Regions from separate parts of the Homo sapiens genome. Here region 2 is linked to region 1. Evidence: fine-mapped expression QTL. A gene starts in region 1. The other region holds a variant in brackets. All regions are shown on one strand. Distances are between the middles of the regions.

The links. PIP is the estimated chance that this variant, and not a neighbour inherited with it, causes the effect.
Region 2: its variant is fine-mapped to the expression of PMP22 in prefrontal cortex (CommonMind, PIP 0.95).

What each region holds. Positions count from the first base shown.
Region 1 is chr17:15,263,320-15,268,319 of GRCh38, forward strand. It overlaps PMP22 (peripheral myelin protein 22), which reads right to left and starts at 2,007. Exons shown (of 5, transcript NM_000304.4): 1 at 1,835-2,007. It overlaps LOC124903931 (a long non-coding RNA gene), which reads left to right. Exons shown (of 2, transcript XR_007065632.1): 2 at 2,137-2,590.
Region 2 is chr17:15,228,072-15,233,071 of GRCh38, forward strand. It overlaps PMP22 (peripheral myelin protein 22), which reads right to left. Exons shown (of 5, transcript NM_000304.4): 5 at 1,708-3,009. The coding sequence ends at 2,846. Among named protein-coding and RNA genes, the nearest start is that of MIR4731, 21 kb to the right of the region's middle. The variant A/G (reference allele first, on the strand shown) is at 2,269.

The sequences.
Region 1 (5,000 bases):
GCCATGGGGTTTGGCGGGCGGGTGCGAGGTGGCCATTTGAGGTGGGGTTGGAGCAGCCAAGGAAATCAGCTGATTCATAGCCTCCTAACGTGGCCCGCCCAGCGTTACAGGGAGAGAGGCTAGCCCCCTTCAGTCTCGGCTTGGCAGAGGCGCGCCCAACTGAGACTCCCGTGCGCAGGCCAGCCTTGAGGCACGGGACAGGGAGCAGGAATGTGGATGTTAAAGGTTTCTGCCTGAAAATGCAGCAGTTCACGCACGCGCGCGCACACACACACACACACACACTTCCCTACCTCTAGTGTACTGTGTCATAGAAGCTCATCACTCTCAATGATTCAAATAATTCTATATTATTTTACGATTTGAAAGGAGCTGCTATTTTAGCTAATTGTATATTCTTACGGTAAGTAAAAATAAATTTGAAAAAGATCTTCAAACAATGATCTTTTTAAAACTATCGTGTTATCAGATTAAAATGAAGTGTACTTGTAAACACTGCATTTACAGTGCCCGTTATATGCCAAGCACTTTGCCTGGACTTTATATGCATGGTCTGTGAGAGGCAGTATGGTGCAGTGGTTAGGCACTCTGGCTCTGGGCTCCAACAAACCTAATCACCCTGCTTACTTTTGTTGTGAATTTGGGCAATTTCTCAAGTTCACTGAGCTTCAGTTTTCTCAGGTGCAAAAGGAAATAGTAATGCCTGCTTTAAAGGTTTATGGTGGTGATTGAAGGAGACAATATGTACAAAGCAGTTAACATCGTGTCTGCAACATAATAAGGGCCCAGTGCCCAAATTGCCACCACTATTATTATATCACATTTAACTCTCACATCAACCTTTCAGGGAAGACCTGACCACCTCTGCACTAAAGTAGCTTGTAACTCTGATAGGTAGGTAGGTAGGTAGGTAGATAGATAGATAGATAGATAGATATAGATAGATAGATAAAGATTTATAAATGAAAGTGCATATGCAAGTAGAAAAAAAAGTCTAAAGACATGGCAGTGTTTTCTTTCCTCCACAGGTCATTTTATAAGTTAGATTTGCTCTAGAAATTATTACTTTGTTTTATGCCATTTGGACATTTATTTATTTAACCAACACTTATGTGATCACAACATACTCAGGACTGTTCTAAGTAAGCACTTTAGAAATATGAGCATATCTAACTCAGGGTTTTCTTTCCCTTCCTTTGTGATTTTCAAATAAACTTTTTAATAAAGTCTAATACACATACAGAAAAGTGCATATATTGGGTGCTACAGCTCGCTTCTTCCTTTCTTTTGAACCCAATAGTTTAATCAATAACCACCCAGGTCACAGCCACACCATATACTGCCAGACAGGTAAACCCAACCCATCTGTCCCTCACTGCCTCTGGCCTCCTGCCTGGTTCTCAATGGTGGCAGAGGAAGTGCTACTCAGTGCCTGCTGACCAGGCTTGCCACACCCAGAGCCCGGCTGGCCAAGGCTCTGCCACAGGTGGCAGCTTCTCCCTAACCTGCTTACCAAGGCCACCTGCCAGCTGTGTGTGCACAGCTATTTTCCATGGGGGAAAAAGCATCTAGATTCCTTTCTTCCTTTCAATCTGGATGCATTAGGGTTTCTAGATGCTCTCAGATGGCCCCCCACCTCCCCAGCCAGAGTATATATCCACCTTTTAACCAAGGATATAAAAAGCCCTCTGAATCTCCAGTCAATTCCAACACAAATGCACCATCTCTCCTGCAATCCTTTTCATTTGCGGCTTGCAGGGGGTGGGAAATTAGGCAATTCTTGTAAAGCATAGGCACACATCACCCAGAGGCACAGTTTGCCAATAAAACTCACCCGGCCAAACAGCGTAACCCCTTCTTCCAAGCAGATTTCTTTGCAGCCAAATGCAAGGGATGTTAAGGCAAGACCCTCCCCACAGGGCAGTCAGAGACCCGCAGCCGACAGACTAAGCCTGCAGCTTCCAACCAGGCTCCCCGAGATGTTCCCTGGTGGTGCTCCCTGTAACTGAAGCCAGACCAGGCGTCTTTCCAGTTTATTCAGGGGCTGGTCCAATGCTGGGATATGTCATGGTGGCCTGAGAGGTTCTCAGCCTCTATTATTTAAAGAGACAGTGTCCAACTTTGTTTGCTTTCCAGAATACAATAATCCCAAGAGGCCCTGCAGGGCATGGAGAAACTGGAATCAGAAGGGAGAAGAGCTTTGAGTATGCCTGAAGCCTGTGATGCCAAGACTGTTCTCTCTGGAAGTGCCAACCTGTGTAATAGCCAAGAGGTCCCACTGGCTCCCCTCCCCTCCCAGTGAATTCTGCAGAGATTAAATATACTGTGGGAAGGATCTGTGTCTACAGTGTTACATACGTGCAGGTAAGTTTTATTTTAAATAAACTTCCTTTTAAGGAGCCCAAACATTGCACAGCTAATCTCTCACAGCATCACAGCAGTGAGCCAAATGTCTCAAGAGTCACCAAATCAAGCCTCCTTTGTTCCAACCCCTGGTTGGAAGGACTCCCTGTTACCTGCCTTGTCTGCCTAGACCCCATCGCAAATGATCACATGTGTTGTACATTAGAATAAAACTTAGGGAAATGTGTTCTTCCGACTCTGTCTTTAATGTGCCCGAATCAAGCTGACCTTCATGAGATAATTCAATGCAAGTAAACGAACCTCTATTGAAAACTATTGAAAACTTTCTAACCTGTCAGGCAGAATAGGCTGGAAGAGCAATTGGAAATTCTTGGAGAGGGAAGTAAAGGAAGTTATGGCATATTTAGGTTCTTTGCAGCGTACCACTCCAGCTCCCAGAGAGTCCTCCATCCCTTGAACCGCTTCTAGCTGCAAACTCTGACACAAGAGGACTGGTTTCATTGCATGAGTTTCCTGGAATTCTGGCACTTGGGGCATAAGACTTCCTCTTGTGTTAGGGATCCCCAGTCTGGAGAGACCTGCAGAATTTGGAGGAGTCCCTCCCTGTCACACACTTTACGTTTGATTGGACTCTCCAGTCACAAGGGCCTCTCAATGGCCCTCTCCCCTGTTCTGCCCACAGCCAGCATCTGCTCACAGCCAGCATCACAGCCAGTGCCAATAAAATAGTTTCACCTTTCTCTCTTTGCTGAAATCATTTTTATTTTTCACAGCAGTGGTTCTTTAGAATCACTCAAGAGCTTTGCAAATGACCTAGCCTGGGCCATGGTCAGAGAAGCTGACTCAGGTGTTTTGGGATGGGGCTCAGGTATGGGTAATTTCCAGTGTCTTTCTCCCCGCTGGATGTTTCGTTGTCCAGCCAGGTTGTCATGTGGAGTTAGATTGTCGCTGATTTCCTTCCAGCTCCCTTCTGTTGTGGAACCCAAATGGAGATGAGGTACAGTGTGGGCTGCTGCAGTATTATGCAAGTTATAAGTCTGTTCTGCCAGGCAAAACGGTGTGTGTGTGTGCGCGTGTATCTGTGTGTGTGTGTGTGCGCGTGTGCGTGTGTGTGACAGAGAGAGAGAGAGAGGAGCCTCCCTCAGTCCTCCTCTGACATGGTCTGTACGGGGACTGGGAACAGTGAGCATGGTTTTTGCAGCCTCTCCAGACAGTCTTTTCCTGGGTACTGCCATGATCAGCTCCAAAGGCTACACGACAGAGGCTGCTGTCCGTCAGGCCAGGATCAAGCCTGAAGACACGTAAGATTATTTCTGATCTAAGAGCTAAAGATTCAGAGGAAAAGGGGTAGGGCCTGGTGAGTGTGGGGCATGGCTTCTGGCCAGATAGGAGCAGTCTGATTAGCCCTCCCTCTCTCCTTCCATGAGCTCCACATTCTGAGACCTGCTCTCTTGGCCTCACGTCTCTTTTGCCCAGGTCCTCCATCTCCAGCAGCCAAACCCCGAAGTCCCTGTTGGCTGTCAGCAGTAGAGCTGTTCACTGTTGTGTGCCACTGGCCCTGTCTACCAGATGCCAACACACTTGTCTTTACCCATCTGGGCCAGACTCTCTTCCCTTCCCAGAGTCAGGTGAGGAAAACTCCTTCCTCGTCTCCCATTTCCAATAACCTTTTCTCAGCCAAATGGGACCCCTATCCCATGCATCTGTGTTGAGCAATGTCTCTGCAAAGCTGTAGGCTATATCCCACTGAGCCTCTTGCAAAATAAACACATAGAATAGTCACCAAATAACATTTATTATTATTTGCTATCCTCCCTTCCATTTACAGATAGGAAAAATGAGAATCGGGATTCTCTGAGGAAACACAGTTGAGTCAATGAGACTGGCTATTTCTAGCACCTGAGCTGTTCTGCTACACCACGCTCCATCGGCTCAGTAGCATCAGTTATCCGCAAGTCCTTGATAATGATGATAATAGGTTATATTTACTTCGTGTTTAGCATATGCCAGGCACCATCTTGAATATTTTATATGCATCAAATCACTTAATCCTCACAACCGTATGAAATAGGCACCCCATCATCCTCTTTTAGAAGAGGGAGAAACTGAGGCACAGCGAGATGTTCAGTCACTTTCTCAAGACACACTGCAAAGAAATGACAGAGGCTGGATTCCAACCAGGCATTCTGGCTACAGATCCCGTACTCACAGCCTGGACTATCTCACATTCTACCGTGCCCCTAATTGTGCCCAGCACGTTCCTAGCATATCTTCTCATCATGCTTCCATAGACACTATCATTTAATGTCCTATTTGTATGAAAGATATTCTCACATTATACATATTTATGCATTCACGTTTCTTTTTCCATTAAAAAGCAAGAACATATCCTAAGACATCCATTTTTTTTTCAGCACCAGTCACATTTAGTACAGCTTTCAAGAATCCTGTCTCATCCTGCCAACAAGGCTGTGTGCTCCTCCGAGGACATTTGCATTCCATATGTCTGTATAGCATAAGCACTGGCAGAATCCTGCCTGTAGGTGAGATTTTAATTTCATAAGAATGAAATGTTGTCCATGACAGTGGAATCCCAGCAGACTCTTGAAGAGGGAGGAAACCCTTCCGCACTTTAT
Region 2 (5,000 bases), 35 kb before region 1:
ATATGGTTTTTTTTTAAATGCCAAGAGTGTTACCTGGGTAGGGAGATTTAGGGGCCGTTTTTGCTTTTCTTCTTTATTCTTATCCCTATTAATTTTTAATGAAATGTTAGAAAAGTTTATGAAATAAAAGTGTATGTTTTCAAAGTACCAGCTCGTGAAATAAAATTCCTAGTTTTCTTAATCTCACATGCATCTCATGGCCACCTGTGCCACCTTAAAACTATCTGAGTCAAAAGCAGAGTAGCAGTCACTACTGAAAACCTCAGAAAAGAGAAGTCCTTCCGTCACAGACACCCAAGGACAGAAGAGCACAAGGTACCTGAAGGTGGCTTTATGCTAGGCCCTTGCTACTCAAAGTGTGGTCGGTGGACAAGCAGCATCCACCTCACCCAGGCACTAATTGGAAATGCAGAATCTCAATCCCCACCTGGGCCTAAAGTTTCAGAATCTGCATGCTATCAGATTCCCAGGTGATTCACTAGCATGTTGAAGTATGAGACCTCCTGCACTAGCTCAGAGGTGTCATCCCCAGTTGCATGCTGTAATCACCAGAAGTGTTCTTTAAACCATGATGGGTGGGTCCCATCATGGAAACAGGGAATCCAAATCTCTAATGGGAATTCCTGCATGGGAGATTCCAGTGTGCAGACTGATACTGAGAATCCTGCATAACAGTCAATGTCTCTCCTACATGCTCTTTCAAATATACCTCTGTTGTAACATATGTGATAACCACTCTAATCTATAGAGTCTTTCTAGGTACTAGTCACTATGCTGAACACTTTATCCATATAACTTCCTTGAAATCCCCTCAGCCCTATACCCTTGTTATTGGCATCCCCATTTTATAGATGAGAAAACTGAATCTTAGTGTTTACGTAACCTTTTCAGGCCCCTATGGCTGGTAAGCAGCAAAGGACAGGCTCAAACCCAGGCTCTCATTTCTATGCTCTTAACCTTATTATAATATAGTCACTTGTTTACTTGTACCTCTCACTAAAATGTGACCTTTCGATGTTAAGATATATGTCATTACTTCTTTATCTTTGGTACCCAATTCAAAATAGTTGCACAATAAATATTAAGGACTATCAACCACATCATTTGCTTGTTATTTTGCAGACACACAACAAAAGGTCGACGGGTAAAAATATGGACGCATGAGACACAACTCAGAAACCCTGAGCTGGGTGACAATGGTGGCCTTTTCTCTCCTTCAGGATGGCATTAGGAGCTTAGTTGGTGCCAACCAATGTTTTATCTGCAAGTGTGGCCTCAAGTCACCATCATTCAGACCTTTCACCATATCATACCTCAGGGTGAGGGATCTGAGATGCTTCTGCCAACATTCCCAGTATATCAGGGCAGCTCATGACATGCCTCCATGTTTTCCATGTGGGTCATCAAACAACAGAGCACCAGAGAGGGTTGAACTAAATGAATACTCAAGTGCCTTCCAGTCCATTTACAGCCTCCATTTCAGCTGCAATTCCCAACTGTCTCCAATTAGCAAACCTTTGCACAGACATCATGAAGGCATCATGTGCTCCCTGTAGCTTGTAAAACAGCTATGATTTTGGTGCCTTAGCACCATCTTGTAACCCAAATCTCCAGCTCAACTTTGCTTTCCACTGAAGCTCTTCATCCTGCTCCAACAGGCACCTTGTACCCACACCCAAGTTCCCACAAAAACTCAAGAGAGACCAGTGAGTTACTCTGATGTTTATTTTAATGCATCTTAGTCCACACAGTTGGTATAAAATCAGAAAATGCAAAGCAAAAACAAAAGGTCTGGAGTCTTAGCATCAGAAGGGCACCATATATACATCTACAGTTGGTGGCCAATACAAGTCATTGCCAGACAGTCCTTGGAGGCACAGAACAGCCTAGACCCAGCCAAGCTCTAGGAACTCACGGTCCCAAGGAGTCTAGACGCTTGTTCTGATGCTCCGACCGTAAGAAAAATGTGGGAGTGATGAAGGCTTTATGATTTACTCATTATAGTAATAATAGCAGCCTAGCTAGGTACAAAAGCAGTTATAAACCATTTATATTACACAGAATTATTCAGGTCTCCATTCTATCTTATGTTGTAAAATTGTTAATTGGATTTCCAGTGAGTTGTTTAGATGATTAGTGATAATAAGGAATGGTAAATCCATAGCACCATTTCAAAGACTTGTTGTCACTGATTTCTCATTTAGATGTGTGACGAAGATACTCCACCTGTAAGGGCAAGTATGCCAATGCCACAAGCCGTGTTTTTGC[A/G]AGGGCTCCAGTTTGGGCATTTTGTCCGTGTGCGCGTAAAGCTTCACACAGAGGTTCGGGCAGCGGCTGTTTCTGTTGGATGCACTGGGTCACCCACCAGAAAAGGGCTTTTGGACATTTGGGGTTTCTACCCACACTTTGGTTTTCTAAATGAGGTGGACTGGGAGGGAGGTATCTTCTTTCAGATGAAAGGGAAGGGGCGAGATGGAGTTATCTTATTTCTGGGTAAAACAAAACAAACAAACAAAAAACAAAACAAAAATACTGAGCTGGATTATACTGTTAGGATGTAAAGTTCCTTAGCTACTTCTTTAAGGCTCAACACGAGGCTGATGGTCAACATAAAAAGCAAACAATACTATGTACATATATGTAAAAAGTGTTATAAATAGGTTTTATAAACCGGAGATATTATATACATCTTCAATCAACAGCAACCCCCACCTCCACTGCTTTCTGTTTGGTTTGGTTTGAGTTTGGGATTTTGGGCTAGCTCTTTTTTCTTTGTCTGCTTTCTGTTTTCCCTTCCTCCCTTCCCTATGTACGCTCAGAGCCTCAGACAGACCGTCTGGGCGCCTCATTCGCGTTTCCGCAAGATCACATAGATGACACCGCTGAGAAGGGCCAGGGGGAAGGCCACCCAGGCCAGGATGTAGGCGAAACCGTAGGAGTAATCCGAGTTGAGATGCCACTCCGGGTGCCTCACCGTGTAGATGGCCGCAGCACTCATCACGCACAGACCTGGGGAAGGAGAGGGACAAGCTGGGTGACGGAGAGTCCATGGCAGAGCGGCCCCCTCTCCGCCACCCCGGATGCTGACAATTGCTGGGTAGGAAGAACATTTCTACCTCTGGAAGGAAATCTGCTTCCAGGTCCAGAATTGAAAGGAGGTAGCACAAAAATATGGGAACAAGGAAAACAACTTGCTCTCTATTTCCAATCTTGGCCACCTAGGCCTTAATACCTGAGGGTTTTCTTTACATTTTCTGCCCTATTTCTCTTTCTTTCACTGTCACCAATTCCCAGGCCACACTACATGGCCAGCAGGCATTCAGGCTGCAAGAAAAACCTACCTGTCTCTTTCCAAGGGTGGTTGGGTATGGAAACCCCTGGAAATCTATATGCCACTCTACAAGTGAGTGGTGGCATTACCTAAAGCCAATGGAAGTGAAGTGACATTTTACCATTATTGGAGTCACGCCATGGTAAAAGGATTAAGCTCCATGCAGACCACAGGGGCCTATGGTCCCCCTAACAGAGTTGCCACATACCAGGTGAAGCAAGCAATGCCTATGGGCACTGCCAAACAGACAAAGAAATGTGTGGAGAGGGAAAAAGAAAGTGAGGAATAAGGATGCAGCCGACAGTATGACTGGGAAGCCACGCTGCAGAGGGGGAAGATGATCAAAGGCAAGCTCCATTTCCCTGGGTGCCCCAAGGTTGCATTTGAAGCCCAAAGAAGGCTAAAGGGCACTGGATATGCAGGTGGGTCAGGCCACCCTCCCTGGCCCACCAATGCAGCCCTTCGGTGTTGGAAAGAGAAGAAAAGCCTCCATCTTGGGCCCTGTGGAGCAGCCACGCTCAAACTGATGGCCCCAGCTCACGTGACAGACAGCGTCCCCCCACAAGGAGGGGTCCAGTGATGTCAGCACCCCAGCCTGGAGCTGCACAAAGCCTGGTCTGTTTCCTCCCTGAAAACAGGGTCTTTGAGAAGCTCTGAGTGACTCTATTATAAATCCAGTATGCCGTGTGGGATTCATGCAGTTCCAGAGTTCCCAATGCACCCGCGCCCCCCCACCGCCCGGCCACCTACATCTAACCTCACTGCTATTTGGGCTGCTGTTTTACTGGACACTGCAACTTTGTTTGAAGACAGTGCAGAAGTGGGAATACGCCACATGAACCACCCTGTTAAGCCTGTCCTCCTGCAACTCAGAGGAGAAAACTGCCACTTGACTGGCCCCTGTCAAGAGAGCCACACAATAGTCTTGGAACCAAAATGGGACAGCATCCAGGACCTGCCACCTACAGGAAGTTCAGAAGACAGCAAAGATGGCCATGTCAGGAGCGAAATCATTGCGGGTTAATTGTTGATTGCAGAAAACAGCAGTTTTGATCTGCTGGGGACACACTTTATTTGCCTTGAGGTCCAGGATCCTTAATTATCTTGCCCCACTCTTCCACGGCTTGCATCTCCAAAGTGCTAACTCTTGTCTTTAAGAAATACTGAAGTTGTCTCTTGGGCTCTGTCTGACTTATCTAATGAAGGCAGGGCTATAAAAAAGGAAACATGACCTTGGCAGAGAGAAAGGTGTTAACAGAGTGCTAGCAGGGCAGGACAACACTTATCATCATGCAGGCAGGGCTCCCAAATGGGCTGTCTAACCAGATCTGGCATGAGAAATGCCTCAGGAGCTGAGTGGACCAGCTACTCCCCGATTTCACTGACTAAGAGGAGATACCAGATTCCATCCTTGAACAAGAGGGATAGAAAGAGGCAGTATAGAGAAGTGCAGCGACTAACTACACAGCTTAATGTGTATGACTTTCATCTTAGTAGAATCTCAGAAGTGAATGACTCTAAGCTTAACCGTGATAAGCAGTAAACTTAGATATCTACAAAGCCAAAGAGAGGATACACACTTTATATGATTGTTGTCATGAGACTGATGTTTTAGGGAATATATTATTACAAGATTGTCTGCATGTAAAGCAATAGATGTACCCTGAAA